Homo sapiens: one gene and its partner. The protein of the gene in region 2 interacts with the protein of the main gene of each other region in a pairwise test. Each region holds a gene or a part of one and is shown on either strand. Other genes may lie near its edges. The genes, in order: TRAM1 and GUCA2A.

Region 1 (2,673 bases), on a different chromosome or scaffold from region 2:
AAAAAATGCAGGAGGCATTTTGTGGAGGGAAAGACTAAACCCCAGAGTAGCAAAGCAACTAATTCATGGTCCCCCCGGGTTTAAGACAGAGCCATGAGCCTTGTCCAGGTGTGGGTCCCTACAGGATTCCCATCATGCTTTGAAGCTCGACTTGAGCCCAGGTGATAATGGCAGGCTCTGCAGGATCTGGAAGCCAGTACAGACTTTCCTCAGCACATTTGAGAGCAGGATGTAGGGCTCATAATTTATAATCATACTTGTGTGTATATGTGCTTCTGTGTATATATTAGCCCTTGGTAATGACATGTCAAGGGCTTTTTTTTTTCTTTGCCTAAACACAGTGTATGCTGCAGAAAACAAAGTGCTATAGTAATTCAGTGAACAGAAAATTCTACAGGCAAATAAGGTGGGAAACACTGCATATTATATCCAACATTCTTGGTGCACCAGGAAACACGTTTGCATATTAAGGACTGAACGGTCCCATAATAAAGAGACACCTTTAGGTTAGTTTAATCCAGTGATTCCCAGATTTATTTGGTTATGACCATCTATCCCCCCAGTAGTCCTCACCAATATTCTGTGGAACAAATCTGTTTATTTGCAGAACACAATTTTGAAAAGGGTTATTCTGAATGTCTATGAAGTGTTTTAAATATGGTACATTTTAATGAGGTTATATACCAAAATAGCCTAAACACCAACAATGACAGAAACATCCAGGATACAACTTGTGAAAGTAAAAATTTTTATTTTGATTGATTTCTCAATGTATAGTTCAGTATAATGCCAGTTTTTAATGGCAAAAATTTGGTTCCACTGAAACTCCATAATGCTACAGAGAGCTACTACTTTTTCCAGGAAGTAGGTTAACAGCTAGAAAGAAAAAGGACAATTTCCTAGCAGCATGGCAACTTAAACTGCAGATCTAATAGGTCTGCAACTTTTACACTAAAAATGGCACAAACAGCTGGTGACACAAGTGAGAAATGGGGAACAAGATGTGAACACTGAAAAGAACAATATATATACTGTAAATATGATGAATAAACCAAATGTAGCTATAAGAATCTTAAAGGATGATTATAGAAAAGGGAACCAAATATTTTCCTCAAATGCTTTTTAGAGCCTTTCTGTAGAGATACAAATATATATATATATATTTATCCAAAAATATGTTTTATACAGATAAATGTTTCTCAATTAAAGATGGGACCAAAGCTATAGGTATAACATAAAGCACATTGTCTTTTGTAAGACTATTTATCCACCTGAATTTTCAATTTCTTTAAAGTTAGTGCATTAAATGTTTTCCAAATATAATTACCTGTCAGTCTTTTTATAGATATAAATCAAGTAGGCATTATGTTTTAAAAGTGTTTGCAGGTTAAACTTTTCTAAGATGCTGTGCATATTAAACTTATTATGAGCCCCATTAAGAATCATTATTAATAAACATATCAAAAAGGGCTATATGTCAGATTTTCCTGTTCATAGTAAATATTTTCTGATTTCCAGTTTACAAGTATTGAAAATGCACAAGAAAGATTTTACTTCACAAGTACTTTTAAGAATATACTTTGATTTAATATGTATGTTAGTAAAACTCCACGTGTTGTAACGATTATTATGTTTTTGTTTTTAAAATGGGGATGTAATACTAATAACCACTACCTATAAAATAAAGCACACAATTGTTCCGGTGATTTTACAAATCTTTTTTTCCAGGTGTAAAGTCTACAAAAATTCCAAAAAATTAGAGAACACTGAAAACATATTAAAGTTTGACATCCAACTTTATAGTATTTCCATGTTACCCTGAAAGATAACTTAAAAAATATGGCCTTCTTAGAACAGGCCACTCTGCTATTATAAAAAATTGGTGACAGCAAGAAATTGTATCACTGATATGTGGAATTTTTGTAAATAGTTTTCTCTCCAAATCATTAGAAAAATGTTCAAAAATAAAAACAAAATAAAATATGGTGGTGGTCCCTAAACTATTTTGAAGGCAGGTAGCTTAGTCTAAGCTAAAATATTTTTTTCATTCATAGCAATAATCCTCCCCTCAAATGCCCTTTAAAAAAATGCATGAAACCGTACAATAGCAAAAATCAAAGAGCACAGACTGTATTTTCAAGAACAGAAAAATCTCTAATGCTGAAAGATATAGTAGAAAGCAGATTTCTTTGGGGACATTAATCAATTAGTTTATAATTCATTATGAAGATTTCTCTTTTTTATTCCGGGGAGAGTCTGCTACATTTGAAGTTAATGTTCCATTCACACCATTTTCTGCAAAAAGAAAAGAATCCATGTTACTCTCTTTTATAAATAAATGCAAGTTATAATCTTTATATGTAAAGATACCTTCAGAAAAGAAAATGTAAAATCCAATTCACTCAGGTGAAATTTACTTACCAGTATTTAACCAATCACAAAACCTGGTAACATTTTTAACACAATGAACTGAAAGTAGCAAATTAAAAGAAAACTACTATTAAAAGCAGAAAAAAGTGACAGCACAGAAAACTATAAAGTCACAAGAATTTAAAAATAGTATTCAAGAGAAATACCTTCTGTAGAAATAAAGAAACTTTTCACATTTGACAGCGAAGTCCTTGGGGATATTTGTTTACAATATAGTAAAGTTGGTGTTTAGGATAATTTCTA
Region 2 (4,225 bases):
GGAAAAGCTGTGGCTGGGCCCCTGCCCTGTTTTATATCCTCATGCAATTATCCATGTGGGTCTGGAGGTCAGAGAGACTTCCCCAGGCACAGAAGCCATTACACAACAGGGTGGCCACAGCTGTGCAAGGGTTGTGGGTGATCACAGTGCCCAGAAAGCACCAAGGTCAAGGTCACAATGGGAGCACTGAGACTCTTCCTGGGGGGTTGAGCAAGTTGTCTTGAGGAGAGGCCGTGGAATGAAAGCCTTGGACCCTGAGTAGGAGTTTGCCTGGACAGTAGTGTGGGAAGACGGGCAGTGGAGAGGTGAGCAGCAGCAGAGGAAATGGCAAGAGGTGTGGTTTGGGATGTGGTCAGGGCTGGAGGCCACACTAGCATGGCTGGTGGGAGCCAAGTCCTTGAATACCCAAGAGTTTGGTGCCAGTCTTCTAGTGGGCCAAGTGCCTGTATTGGTTGTCCAAACCAGCTCAGACTGGCTCCCGTGCTCACATGTGGCTCAGTGAACTTGGTGACCTCAGGAGATGTGAAATAAAAGCAAACCCTCCCCACCACCCGCTGCCTTGGTGGTTTGGAGATCCAGATCCTCTCCACGCCTCTGTGTTGTGGCAGCCCCAGGGACAGTGAGCAGCTTAGCAGGGAGAGTGGGGTCCTTCGCTTAGTACATTACATCCCGAGCTTCCAGGGCAGGATAGACTAGGGGATGAAGGAAGGAAGGAAGGCAACACCCAGAGTACTCTGGAATCTGGTTTATTAGCTGGGGGTTGAAGTGGCAGGGAAGGACAGTGTTGGGGCGAGGCCTCCAGTCACCCAGTTCCTCCCCGGGCTGCTCCTCCCGACTGGACCAGGGTAGGTTGAGCTGCTGGGAGTGGAGTATCATGGGTGGCCCTTTCTGCAGGAGAAAAGAGCTTCCCTGCTGCGGAGGGGAGGCAGGCAGTGGGCAAGCCCCCCTAGCATCCGGTACAGGCAGCGTAGGCACAGATTTCACATGTGCCCGGGTCCTCAGCGATTTCCTCTGCACAACAGAGATGGAGCCTCGTGAGAACCAGCATTTCCTCGCGAGGCCCCTGCCGCCCTTGGCCCAGAGCTTGTACGTCACCACCCAGCCCCAGGAGAATCTCAGCAGGCCCGTACTCTGACCTACTGGGCTTTTCGCCCCAAACCAGGGCACACAGACCACTCAAACCAACCAATCAAAGCAGAGATTCCACCAGAAAGAGAGGAAACTAAGACCAGATGAATGGTCTTAGTTCCCAAACCTCAGCAGTTACAACTTGGAATTGAAGTGGGCATGGAACAGACCCACCAATCAGAGCCAAGCTCCCTAGTTCCACCAGTCAGAGCTGAGCCCTTCCTCCAAATCCCACCAATCAGAGCACATCTCTTCCTCAAGTGCCACCACAGTATTCCCGAACCCCACCAATCAGAGAGGAAGGAGGCTGCTCACCCAGCCTCTGAAGTATCTCCTGGGCATTGGGCTCCTTGCAGAGAGGCTTGAGTTCTTCTGGAAAGTTCGGGTTGCTACAGAGGATGGGAACCACAGGTTCACCAGGGATGGGTGCAAAGTTCCTGAGTTTCCCAACCCTGGGCTCCTGGGGCTCCTGGAGGTCTTTGAGCTTCTTCACTGACTCCAGAGAAAAGGAGAAATTTCCATCCTGGAAGAGAGAAGCCCAGAGCATGAGGCCAGGCTGCAGCCTGCTTCCTGGCTGTGCCCCCCGTGCTGGCCCCGGTCCAGCCCAGTGGTGCTCACAGGCAGTGTTCGTGGCATATGGGAGCCAGGCGATCCACAGTGGGGCACTGTGAGGGGCAGAGTTCAGGCCCCACGTCCTGGCTTGGCTCCGTGATGCTGGACACTCTGGAACCCGCAAATTCTGCATGTTGTATGGGGAATGGAGAAAATGGGTGTGAAGCTCCAGGAACACCATAGGTGCCTAATGAGTAGGAGCCAGTGTGCTGATTTTTAGGGAGAGGCAAAGGACCAGCACCCAGGCATCGTAGTTCCACGTGGCCAAGCCCAGGCTGTCTTTCCCCTGCCTGAGAGCGGTGCGGCTGATTACTGGGCCCCCAGCTCCAGCCTGCAGCCTGGTTTTGGTTTGAGAAGCAATAAAAGGCCTCCCGGAATCTGGCTTTGATAGAGATCAGGGCCCCCGCTAGGTGCCAGCTTGGCCTGTCGCCAGCATTGGCACTGGTAGGCATACCCATCTGTCAGGACCTCCAGGGTGTCCATGTGGTTCCTGGGACCCACTGAGGAGTAAGGTCTGGATTTAAATCCAGCTCCTGCACTTCCCACAGCCATGTGCCCATGGCCTGTTACAGAACCTTTGTGAGGCTCAGTTTTCCCCTCTGTAAAATGGGACTAATGATCCCTTTCTTCCAGGTTGATAGTGGAGCCACAGTGAGGGGCTGGGGAAGGAGCCGGCACATAGGACACTCAGTAAATTGGCCAACTCCCCGCCTTCCCCATATGGTTATTCCTCTTCCCTCCACTGGGTTTCTTTCTCCTCCAAAGTTGAAGGGAAAGGTGTGTGTGTGGCTGGACTGAGCAGGAGCTCCTCGAAGAAGGCCAAGCCTGGGACACACACCCTCAATCCAGCCCCAAAGAGGAGGTACTCTCTCAGGGGACCAGACCTGGGCACTAGGGGCAGGGAGCCAGCTGGGCCGGGGTAGGGACACAGGACTCACCTGCACGGTGACCCCTCCTGCCAAGGCGGCCCAGGCCCCAAGGAGGCACAGTGCGGAGAGCAGGAAGGCATTCATGGCAGCAGTGCCCGAGAGAGGGGTGGCTGTTCTGGATGCCAGGGGGAAGCGGCGGGACTTTTAAAGAGGGCAGGTTACTGAGTAACCTGGAAGCCTCTGTCAGTCTCATCTGCTCACCTGTCAGGCCTTATCAGATAAGGCTCGAGACAGCCCTAGGAGATAAGAGCCAGGCAGGGGGGGCCCCGGCCCCTCCCTGAGCACCTACTTTGACCCACAGCCGGGCTGGGTCCTGCATTCATTCACCAACAAGGCACATTCACTCACGACTGCCCTGTGCTGCTGTGTGGGGCCGGCAGACCCTGCCCTTGAGGAGGGGGGCCCAGCCCGACAGTGAAACGCAGGGCGATTAGGGTGGGGTGATCCTAGGATGAGGTGACGGGGCTGCACTGGGGGCTGAGCTCTGGAGAATGGGTGGAAGTTTTCCCAGAGAAGGGACTGAGGACAGAAGGCCATTTCATGCCAAAGGGACAGCCAGGAGGTGAGACGGGCCTGGAATATTCAGGGAAATGTGAGAAATTCCACGGGGGAGGCTGCAGGGCAAGTCAGGGTCTGGGTTTGATTGCCGCGACCTCAAGGAAGCCCTCCGCACAGCCTGGGTTCCGTTCCACCTACTGCCCAGTTGTGAGGCGTGTGAACTTGGGCCAATGCTTTCCCCTCTCTGAGTCTCGTTGTCCCTTGTGTCCCCTGTGGGAACCAAAAATAATACCTACCTCATGGGGTAGGTGTGTGGTAGGCATTACTGTTTGGAGAATCAAGTGAGGTTTTAAAAACATTTAGCTCAATGCCTGGCACACAGAAGGTGCTCAGCAGAGGTCCATTCCCATATTATTAGCAGCCACAGCAGCTCCTGGTCCTCCCTGGCCCCTCTGGTGACCTCCTGCCTGTCTGAGTCACAGGCTGTCCCCATCCTGTGCTGGTCCCCATCCTGTCCTGCCTGCCCTGCAGCCTCAGGGTGTCCTCGAATGAGCTCCTCCCCAATCCGCCCGCCCCCCTTGCCCCTGCAGATACAGTCCCCTTTCCGCGGATCTCACTGGGGAATTGCTTGGGTGTGCCCGCGCCCCTATAGACTCTGACCCCATTCAGACTGCGCCCTCAGGGCAGCGTGCATTCACTGTGTGCTGTTGTGAGCAGGAATCCCCAGGACACAGGAGAAAGGGTAGCCCTGGGATTGTCATCTTTCTACTCAGCCAACCTGGCCCGATGCCAGGACAGCCCTAGGGCGGGAGGTTGGGCAGGAATTCCTGGGTGGGGAGAGTCAACACTGAAGAGGGAATTGGAGAGAGCAGGGCCTGACCAGGAGGGAACTGCAGGGACAAGGCCCTCAGGGAGGGGCAGGTAGCTCCTGGCCCAGCTCCCAGGGCAGTCCTCACAGCTGCACTGGATTTCCCACCCCTTTCTGGTGAGTGTGTGTGTGTGTGTGTGTGTGTGTGTGTTAAGGGGGGGTGTGTCTGCGGAGATGTGTATGTCTGTGT

What was found.
Region 1: the proteins of GUCA2A (region 2) and TRAM1 interact in binary tests that used the Homo sapiens proteins (3 or more experiments, as listed by UniProt).

What each region holds. Positions count from the first base shown.
Region 1 is NC_000008.11:70,572,711-70,575,383, forward strand, and holds the end of TRAM1 (translocating chain-associated membrane protein 1), read right to left. Parts: intron 2,296-2,673; coding exon 2,222-2,295; 3' UTR 508-2,221; downstream 1-507. UniProt on the Homo sapiens protein: Involved in the translocation of nascent protein chains into or through the endoplasmic reticulum (ER) membrane by facilitating the proper chain positioning at the SEC61 channel.
Region 2 is NC_000001.11:42,161,960-42,166,184, forward strand, and holds GUCA2A (guanylin precursor), read right to left. Parts: upstream 2,787-4,225; 5' UTR 2,754-2,786; coding exon 2,679-2,753; intron 1,652-2,678; coding exon 1,444-1,651; intron 1,012-1,443; coding exon 947-1,011; 3' UTR 731-946; downstream 1-730.